Linked DNA regions of Homo sapiens: region 2 is linked to region 1. The links come from fine-mapping of genetic effects on gene expression. A gene starts in region 1. The other region holds a variant in brackets. All regions are shown on one strand. Distances are from middle to middle. Region 1 holds the start of PARP12 (poly(ADP-ribose) polymerase family member 12). Region 2 overlaps TBXAS1 (thromboxane A synthase 1).

Evidence for each region. PIP is the estimated chance that this variant, and not a neighbour inherited with it, causes the effect.
Region 2: its variant is the best candidate, but not a certain one, in a credible set for the expression of PARP12 in sun-exposed skin (GTEx, PIP 0.76).

What each region holds. Positions count from the first base shown.
Region 1 is chr7:140,059,788-140,065,159 of GRCh38, forward strand. PARP12 (poly(ADP-ribose) polymerase family member 12) reads right to left here and starts at 3,164. Exons shown (of 12, transcript NM_022750.4): 1 at 2,735-3,164. The coding sequence starts at 3,060. RefSeq lists a silencer at 2,772-3,091 and an enhancer at 3,102-3,311.
Region 2 is chr7:140,015,341-140,020,712 of GRCh38, forward strand. It overlaps TBXAS1 (thromboxane A synthase 1), which reads left to right. Exons shown (of 13, transcript NM_001061.7): 11 at 383-520; 12 at 2,331-2,493; 13 at 4,685-4,953. The coding sequence ends at 4,759. Among named protein-coding and RNA genes, the nearest start is that of PARP12, 45 kb to the right of the region's middle. RefSeq lists an enhancer at 1,398-1,898. The variant C/G (reference allele first, on the strand shown) is at 3,007.

The DNA of each region.
Region 1 (5,372 bases):
GTGCAACGTCAGCTGTTGTCAGAATCTGTCAGCGCAGAGCGGAAGGGCACCTGAGCCAGTCAGGGCTGGGAGAGAACTGGGGAAGAAATCAGGGGAGCATGCTGGATGGCATAAAGCCTGAGTGGAATACTTAAAGGGTGAGGAGGAGACAGCAAGAGAAAGGAAGAACATTCCAGAAGAGGGGCAAATAATTTGGTGCTGCCAGAGCCAAATATATCTAATAAGTGTAACGATGACTGATGGTAACAATGATAATGACTACTAAAATTTATTGAGCAACTGCCAAATATCGGGGATTGCCAAAATGTTTTATGAGTTAATCATTCAGTCCTCAACCAGCCTGTGAGGGTAGTAATATCATTAACTCCACTTTGCAGATGAGGGAACTGAGACCTGGAGGTAAAGTCACTTGCCCGAAGCCATCAGCTAGCAAGGAGCAGAGCCCAGGTTGAAACAAGGTGGGCTGGATCTTGGGACTGTGCCCTAGACCACCAGGCTCAATGCCTCCTGAGTAGAGGACTAAGAGTCAGGCACCCAGGACTCCGTACCAGCTCTGCAGCAGGACTGATGAGCTATTTCTAAAAGAACTGACCCTGCGGTTCAGGAAGACAAGCAGAGTCACAGGGGAAGCAGAAAAGTGCAGCCAACCACACCCACTCTCCCTAAAGTGAGTCAGAAATGGAAGGTTCAAGAAACTCACCTGTGTAAACCACAAGGAAAAGAGAAAACTGAAGAAAGAAGAAAACTCAAGGTCATCTGAGCCAGTAAATATCACACTACAGATTTCCGAGACAAGTCAGACCTGACCCCACATTTTGGGAACTAGCTTAAGAACAGGGCTGCCATCTTTATTTTACCAAATATGAACATGAAACAGATCTACCAGTTACCCCCATGAGTGGCTCTATCCAGCCACCATTTGCTGTGTGCCTTCCTCCTCGTGGGCTGTTGTTCCCTGCTCTCCCCTGGACTGCCTCATCCCTGAAGGCTGATTTCCCCAGAGTTCCACCCTCAGCCTCTTTTCAGGCCTCAGACGCTACCTCAGATCTGATCCACTCCTGGGGCTGCAACTACAACATACACCGCCCAATATCTCCCAAACCAGCCCAGCGCATTGGGGCCCTGGCCTTCCTCCCAAGCTTCTGACCTGAACAGCTGCCTCCTGGGCATGCTTCCAAACTAAAACCCTCTCTTGCTCTCTCAGTGAACAACACCCAGGCCACCGCAGGAACAGAGACTGAAGAGTCGTCACCTCTCACATATCCTCTCATCACACCGTCACCAGCTATCCCAAATTTCTCACACACATAGCCCTTGGAAAGCTCTAATCTAGATACTTCCAGACAGCTGCTTCCTAGAGGCATTTCCCAGTCACCCTGCATCTAGACAGGGTCACGAGACAGCTTCTGGTCAATGGGATGTGGGTGAAAGGAAATCCACCACTTCTAGACCTGGCCCACAAAAACCTCCCATGCATCCCTCTTTTCGATCAGCCCCCTCGAACTTGATAACCTAGGCTGGCCTCAAGAGCCATGTGCTGAGGGGCACAGAGCGGAGGTCAGTCAGCCTGCATCCCTGAATGACTGTATGGATCAAGGCCCCCACCCCATGCTCACTACTGGGCCTGACATGAGCAAGAAATATCTACTCTATTAAGACAAACATACACACACACACACAAAACAGGGAGCAAGCAAGAAAGGAGGGAGCAGGGGAGGAAGGAATTCTCCTTGATGACTAGCTTCCCAGTGGTTCCCCCACAACATCCTCCCTTAAATTGGCACCCACACCACTACCTTAGACTTCCTAAAACGCAAACCTGATGGTTGCTCTCTCCTGCCATTTTACCCGCCCCATCACCTCCAGGGTGAGGCCCAAATTCTTTAGCATAAACCTCAGCAATCCCTTCCACACATCCCACTGGCCACATGCTATGCACAGAACATGGACGCTAAGTGCTGGGGAGACAGCTGGAGCCTCTGCCCTCAGGGAGTTTCTATTCTACTGGCAGCTGGGTGCCATGAGGAAAATAAACAGTTCCCTGTGACCAAGAGTAAGGGGAGGAAAAATCCTCAAATGGGATGTGATCTTTAGGTTGAGGCCTGAAGGATTAACAAATAGGGCCAACCAAGAGCAAGAAGGGCATTCCAGGCAGAGCAAAGACTCCCAGAAATGCCCAGGCTCCCAGAAATGCCCGGGGGGGGGGGGGTGTTCCAGTCACAGAAGGGTCCTGGGTGGGCAGGGACCAGTGCCCCAGGACCTTGTGGGCGATGGCAGGGAGTCTGCATTTTCCAGTTTGTAAGCAGATTAATAGGGTTGAACTGGGTTTAAAGATCTCTACCAGCTGCTGGGCAGAGAAAACCTTCATTGTCTGGCCTCAAAGCTGGCAAGGGGCGACCCGCGGCGTCGTGGAGTTCCCCTAAGCCGCCGCCTCCCTCCCTCCCCACCCCACACGGCCACACCCGGGTGTTCCACCCGGCACTACCATGCTCTATGTAAATCACTCTCTCCCCCCAGGCGTCTAGAGGACCCCACTCGACCCTGAGTCCCTCGCACTGTGCCAGGTACTCCGCAGGTGCTCATTAAACGCTCGCTTTAGTGAATGACGGTGCGAGGTCAGGGCAGAGCCACCGAATTGTCTGCTCAAACTTCAAGTAGGACCCCCAAGCGGGCTGGAAGTGCGTGAGGGCGCGCAGGACCTCCGCCCGCCGTCGCTCCCGGCGCGGCGCCTTACCCGGCTCTCAGGAACTTGCAGGCGCCGTAGACCATGAACCTGCAGAGGTGGAGCTGCGCGCAGAGCCCCACGCAGCCCGGCTTGGAGCCCTGGTGCGCGCGACACAGGCGCAGCGGCGAGGCGGCCAGCACCACGCGCTCCGGGGCCGCGGCTGCGCCGCCCGCCCGCACCGCCACCACGAAGCGCCCACGCTGCCGCAGCAGCCGCTCCAGCGCGTCGGCGCTCAAGCCCATCCGCAAGCGGCGCCGCAGCTCGGGCAACTCCAGGGCGCCCCCGGCCGCGCACAGCACCTGGGTGACCTCACCGACGACGCCGGCCTGGGCCATGGCCGCTGGGCCTGCTCCCGTCGGACCGCGGGTGGCGCGACGCGGACGGCGGCGGACGCTGGCTGGCGGGCGGCTCTCGCAGGGTGGAGACGCCGGCGGGAAACGAAACCGAAAGCGGCCCCGGGCCGGCGAAAAACAGAACCTGTGCGCCCTCGCCACGCCCCCGGTCCGCAGCTGAGCGGCTGCGCCTTCCGCCTCAGGGCCCCCAGCTGTGAGGCCGCCGCCCGACGGAAGCTCGGGAGCTCTTGAGCTCGGGCGTTCGGCCCGGAGCGCGGGCTGTGGCTGTGGCGGCTCGCGGGGGTCAGTACCTAGTCCCTGAAAATGGCTTCCCTGGATGTTTGAGGGACCAGGAGCCCCTAATGCCGCGATGCTCAGCGCGCCTTCAGTCAGAGGGAGCCTCGAGGGCGGCGGCAGCGCTGGCGGAGCCGGCTGGACGCCGCCGGTTAAAGCCGCTCAGCGTCGCCCAGGCCAAGCCCGGGCTTCGTAGACGGCTCACAGAAACAGGGACAACTGACGGGAGCTCTCACCCCTCGAACAAGTGACAAAAGCGATCACTCCGCATAGAAGACGCACTTAATTAAAGGTTCCTTTCGCCTCGGTGCATCAATGAGTTCCTTCATTTAAACATAAAAGGGTATGTCCTTTAAAAGAGCAAATCCGTGAGCCGAGATTGCGCGACTGCACTCCAGCCTGGGCGACAGAGCGAGACTCCGTCTCAAAAAATAAAATAAAATAAAATAAAATCCGTTACTCCCAGCCCCTGCTAAGTAACGATTGAACAAATATTTTAGAAGACCCTTCAGAGCAAAGGACCCTCTCACACGCTGAGAGCAATGCGAGTTGTTAGAGCCCTTTGAGGAGGTAATCCAGGAATAGCTATTAAAATTGAAAACGCGTGTGACCTTTGACCCAGCAATCTTTCCTCTCGGAATCTTCCAGAAGTAAAAGGAACAGTAAATAAGTTATGTGTGAAAGTGTTACTGGGGGAACCCTACCTGGGAGGTAGGGTTACGTGGGAACAGTGTGGTTGATCTTTAAAGACTATTACGAAGGCTGTTTAACAAGCATGCGTTAGAGCTCCGTGTGCGGATGTAGAGGGGCAGACAGCCATGATGTGGTGGTAAACGAGAAAAGATGGCTGTACAGAAATGTCTAAATAATCAAGTTGAATGATCAAGAATTAATTTTTTTAAATGTCTGAATAACAAAAAGAGAAGCCTGTGTGTGTGTGTGTGGCAGGATATTTTTGAATAAGCACGGAGAAAGATGAAGAAACACACAAGGGTAGTTGAGAGGAGGCAGTAGGAGGTATTAGGAAAATGGAAAAGGGAAGATGAGAGGCAGAAGGATTGTGGGGGGAGAGTACTTACGGTATACGGTATAACATTCACTAAAAATGAATATAAAAATCTTAACTATAGGCCAGGCACAGTGGCTCACGCCTGTAATCCCAGCACTTTGGGAGGTCAAGGCGGGCGGATCACTTGAGGTCAGTAGTTTGAGACCAGCCTGGCCAACGTGGTGAAACCCCGTCTCTGCTAAAAACGTAAAAATTAGCCGGGCGTGGTAACGGGCGCCAGTAATCCCAGCTACTCGGGAGACAGGCAGGAGAATCGCTTGAATCCGGGAGGCAGAGATTGCAGTGAGCGGAGATCATGACACTGCACTCCAGCCTGGGCGACAGAGTGAGACTCCATCTTTAAAAAAAAAAAAAAAATTACCTGTACTATTACTACAAAAATGTAAATAATAAGTGTATGGATAAAGACTAGATAGTAACATGGACAAATGAAAATGAATTTATTTAATTAGGAAATTGAATGAAGGGTTTTCTCTTGGATTTTAATTGTGATTTTAATGTTTTCATTGTATAAAATGTTAATTTTGTTTTTGTTATTGTTTTAGAGACAAGGTCTTGGTCTGTCACCCAGGCTGTAGTATAATGGTACAGTCATAGCTCACTACAACCTGGAACTTCTGGGCTCAAGCGAACCTTCCACCTTAGCCTCCCAAGTAGCTGGGCCTAGAGGCACGTGCCACCATGCCCAGATAATTTTTATATTTTTTTGTAGAGACACTGTCTCATTTGTTGCCCAGGCTGATCTTGAACTCCTGGCCTCAAGCAGTCCTCCCACCTCAGATTCCTAAAGTGCTGGGATTACAGTGAGCCACCACGCCTAGCCTAAAATGTTAATTTTTAATTTAAAATGTTAGGCAGAGTGCAGTGGCTCACGCATGTAATCCCAGCATTTTGGGAGGCCGAGGTGGGTGGATCACTTGAGGTCAGGAGTTCAAGACCAGCCTGGCCAACT
Region 2 (5,372 bases), 44 kb before region 1:
GTGGCCCAGGAATGACCCTCCAGGCCCCCACTATGAAAGCAATCCTTCCAAAGCAGTTTGCACCCCGACATGGGGCACAAGAGGGGCCCTTTGTGCTTGACAAATGGATGCATGAAGGGATGGATGAGTACATTTTCATCAAGGACCAAGTGAGCCTAGCCTCGGGGCTGCAGGCTCCTGGGCAGTGAGTGGTAATGGGGTAGGGGCTTGGTCACCCTGGGAAGGGGGCTGAGCAGGGGGTCCTCTGTCCCCAGCCTCATTCCACACACCATGCTGCCTGCCCCTGATCCCCTTCACACTCAGACTCTGCCTGCCCAGCACGCCCCAAGCTCTGCTCCTCATCTCTTCTCTGTATCCACCCCCGACCTGGTGTTTCCCTCAGATTCACACGGGAGGCAGCTCAGGACTGCGAGGTGCTGGGGCAGCGCATCCCCGCAGGCGCTGTGCTAGAGATGGCCGTGGGTGCCCTGCACCATGACCCTGAGCACTGGCCAAGCCCGGAGACCTTCAACCCTGAAAGGTGAGTACTGCCCCTTTTAAAAAGCTCTGAAGGGATGTGAGTGTGTGGGATAGAAATTTACCAGTGGAGGCAGCAGCCGGGAGGCACAGACTTAGCAAAATTGTCCCCAAATAGTCAAAAGTTATGGCAATTCAGATAGATGTTTGCAAGACATAATTTCCAAAGGAAATAATTATACCATTTTTTAGCCACGCGTGGTGGCTCATGCCTGTAATCCCAGCACTTTGGGAGGCCAAGGTGGGCAGATCACGAGGTCAGGAGATCGAGACCATCCTGGCTAACACGGTGAAACCCCATCTCTACTAAAAATACAAAAACTTAGCTGGGCGTGGTGGCGGGCGCCTGTAGTCCCAGCTACTTGGGAGGCTGAGGCAGGAGAATGGCGTGAACCCAGGAGGCGGAGCTTGCAGTGAGCCGAGATGGTGCCACTACACTCCAGCCTGGGTGACAGAGCAAGACTCTGTCTAAAAAAAAATAAATAAATTAAATAAAAATAAATAAATAAATAAATAATTATACCATTTTTTCAAGGTCCAAACTGAATCCAGAGATTTAGCATTTCAGCAGCCCTGCATGCAAGGAACAAGGCAATTTCAAATGATTGTCTTCCATTCATTCAAGCCAGGACATGGGATACAGGATTGTATTTCAGGTCTGCACTGGAAAGTAACGGAACATCATTTCCTTTTTAAAAAACGGGCATCTATGCCAAAACAACAGCTTCAGCTGATGTCTCCATGAATCTAAATTCACGTGATCCACTGGTTGACCTGGGTCCCCGCCTTCCACCACCTGGCTTTGGTTCATTGTCTCCTTTCATTTCTGGGCTCTGTGATTGGAAACATCTGAGCAGGCGGCCCACACTCTGGTCCTCATCAGAACCAGTCAATATCCTGTGTGTGTGATCTGGCAAGGGAAGGGCTGGCCCGGCACCAGTTGTGTTTTCACCTTTCATGGCTCCAACTGAGTTCAGCCCAAGCCTACGACCCAGTCACTGGGAAAACGTGAGCAATGGGATCTACACAACAATATTCCACAGTCAGCAGCTCCTGAACGTGCCGCAGCCACAGGGCTTACAGCCTCACAATAAAGCCCAGGGGTAGTAAAAAGTGAGCTCGCTGTTACAGAACAGTGAGTGCCACCTAGCTTCACTGTCATGGGACACACGCTGCAGGCAAATGCACTACTTGGTAGGAGATTCAGCAGTTCTGAGGAAGGGCCTCCAGCTCTCCAGGTACTGCAGCTTCCAGTGGTTCAAGTGTCCAGTGCAGGGGCCTGCAAAGCAAACACGGGCAGGAGAGGGGCTGCCAGTGTGGCCCAAGAGACCTGCAGGGCAAGCCAGCAGGACACGCCCCCCAGGGAGGGCCCAGGAGGTGCTGAGGTGCCCGGTACCCTGCCAAGGAAGCAGGTGGCGGCTGGGTCATCCTATGGGAGGGGAGGTGGCGCCATGGGCCCAGGTGAGGGTGATCACCAAACCCTGGGGTTCAGGGATGCCGTGTTTAGACTCTGATTGTGGGTGGCGGTGAGTCTGTGGGCTTATTAGCCACACACTGAATTCCTAAGGAGAGGCAGGGAGGGAGCTGTGGACATTCCAGGTGATTCTGCGAATTCAGCTCTGCCTCTGGGGCTGTGCAGGAAGACAGGAGGCCAGGAGCAGAGAGGGACTGAGGCTCAGGAATGAGCAGCCATCAGCTCCCAGAGCCTTGGAGACATCCTTGTCTCAGATGCAGGGGTGGCTCAGCTGGAGCACAGGGCTGCAGAGGGGAGGGAGCGGGTGTTCTGGGCCAGCCCTGACCACACGGACCTGCAGGTTCACGGCTGAGGCCCGGCAGCAGCACCGGCCCTTCACGTACCTGCCCTTCGGGGCCGGCCCACGGAGCTGCCTCGGGGTGCGTCTAGGGCTGCTTGAGGTCAAGTTGACACTGCTCCACGTGCTGCACAAGTTCCGGTTCCAAGCCTGCCCTGAGACCCAGGTGAGGCCCCCCTGCTCAGAGGCAGGGGCAGGGGCAGGGGTGGGAGGGCCACCCCAGTTCTCTGCGTGAGAGCAGGCCAGCCTGGGGGCAACATCAGGCTCTGCCTCCGTGAGCTTGGGCAAGCTCCTTAACCTCTCTCGGCCTCAGTTTCTTGATTCGTAAAGTGGGGGTGATAATAATAACACCCTCTACCTCTCAACATCCTGTGAGGATCCAGTGAGTTCACACAGCGCTCAGGTAAGCCCTGGCAAGCCAACCCGAGCACGTGTTAACCATTGTTATTAGTATTGTTCTCTGCACACCAGGGCTGGACCTCACCTTGCTGTAGCTCTTCCCACTTCCACAAAGGGCACACAGACAATGGCATTTGCAGTTGTGACATGTGCCTGCCTTTGCGGGGTGGGGGGTGCATGGCTTGTCCTACAGAAGGTGGGGACACTTCCTCTGGCTCCTCCTGACAGAGCAAGGTGCTGTCTGCTTGGAGGGGAAGCTGAAGGGTTTCAGCTCCTTGAA[C/G]GGTACCCCCAGCTTTGCCTTCCCCCCTTGTGCAGACACTCACGTGTCCCCATGGCCACAGCCTGGTCCCTCTCACAGGTGGTGACACAGCCTCTTCCCAACAACATATGCCTTCATTCCTGAGGTCCTAGACTGGTGCACAGACCCTGTCCTCACCCAGAGAGCTGAGCTCTCCTGAAATGGGGCCTCACCCACTTTTCCAGCCCTATCTCCCCCCCACATCACACACTCCAGAACCAGCAGACCAATTCCTCAACAGGTCAGGGAGCTTATATCCCCTGCTTTCACACTCACAGCAACCCTGCAGAGTAGGAGTGACTATTCCCATTCTTTAGATGAGGAATCAAAGCTCAGAGAGGTTAAATAACTTGCCTAAGGCCACACAGCAGGACTGCAGGCTTCGTGATGGCAGGGACCCAGTCTGTCATATTCATTGTTGGACTTTCCAGCATCTAGCTTAATGCCAGGCGCATGACAGGTGCTCACTCATTCATTCAACAAACATTAATGAGCAAATGGATAAGCAGCCAGAGATGAGAGAAACGGGGGTCCTCACCCAGATCCTGCCCACTCCCAAGCTCTCCCTCCTTCCTGACATCTGGCTACGTCTCTGCACAGCGTTAGCTATTCCCTGCCTATCCTGACCACTGCTGTCCCCTGCACCTATCCTCATGCTTGTCCTGCCACCCGGAACCCACTGTTCAGCTGCAGACCTGGACAGGCAGGCATAGGAAGGCATAAGGACACAGTTGACAGATAGCAACAATTCTAGATTGAGACAGGCAGTGCCTCTGACAGAGAACCTGGGACCAGCTGCTGGTCCTGGAGGAATAATGAGCTTGGATGGGGGACATAGAGTCTGAGATACTGAAAGTGAACGCATCCACATACTCTGGGCTGGAGACAGGGAGGGGCAGATCGGCAGAGCAGAGCCAAACCAAGTGAGGTCAAGGGGCAGACGGAGGAGCAGCCCCACTGCATCGGGGCTTCCACGTGTGCGGGGCTTGTCTCACTTCCCCACGATCTCAACATACAGTGCAGCAGCCAGACCAGTCTCCCAAAACGCTGCTTATGCCTGGCACTCCCCGGCTTAAGAACCAGCCAGGAGTCAAGGGCTCCCCGTTCTTCCTTGTCTGCTCAGACAAGTGCTGGGGCCTGCAGCTTTTTCAGATGCCTTTGAGGGCTATGGCTCCCACAGGAGACACGTACAGCCCCAAGCACTAAGACCCTGGTGACTCTTTGCTGTCACATTAGCCACTGGCTCATCATTTTACTCAGCTCCAGAGGAAACCCAACTCCTCGAGTAATTCTTTGGTTTTTCTTCAAAGTCCCCAGTCCACCACTGGCTCTGCCTTTTAAGCTGGACATAGGAAAGCTTTCTGGATGTCAGTGAGGCCAGACCACAGCACACATGAGCAGGAACAGCATGAAGCTGCTTTCCCCAGAGCCCCTGGGCCAGAGGGCATTGCTCAGTTACTGGCCAGAACTGGAGAGTGAGATGGGGAGGATCAGCAGGGACGGCTGGAGTCACTGAAAGATAGGTTTGGGGCTTTGCTCTCTGCTTTCTTCTTGTGTGACCTTGGACAACGGACTTGGCCTTCTTGAACCTCCAAGTCTTCATTTGTACAGTGAGATGCTACTATCTCTTTGACAAATATTTTAATTTTCTCTATTTTAGGTACCGCTGCAGCTAGAATCCAAATCTGCCCTAGGTCCAAAAAATGGTGTCTATATCAAGATCGTATCCCGCTGACACAGAAGGCTGCCGGGTGGGGGGAGGGCACCCCCAAATTCAAAGAAAACCCTAAGTGTGGATGTTCAGAATTTTGGAAAAATGTCACTGAAGTGATTGAAAGAGTGCCTGGCATGCAAGGATAAGAGGTTCTTTACATAACATTTCCTAAATGCTTAATAAACGTTTGTTGCACTTGGTTTTGACATTGCCAATGGGGTTTGAACCAGTGCTCTCTCTAAATGAAGAATTGCTGATAAATAAGTGAAAATGTAGTTTTGACAAAACAACTGAGAATGTGGGGTTTTAAAGGAAGTCCCAGGCTTGTGCTGAAAGGAATCCATGGTGCAGGGCACATGAGGACCCCCAGGTAAGCCTGTCCTGATGGCACTAGCTCGTGGCTCTTTCAGCTTCTCGTGCATTGTGGAGTTGTAGAGAATGACATTTATCGAAAGTTCAACCTCAGCAGTGGTTCCAAAGCTTTATTATGCTTTGATTTTCCTAGGTAGGGTAGTACCAACTTTACAGTCAAGTTTCAATCGACAGAAAAATGAGAGTCTGAAAAATGATATACTTTTTCTTTTAAAGAACACTGTATCGGCCGGGCACGGTGGCTCACACCTGTAATCCCAGC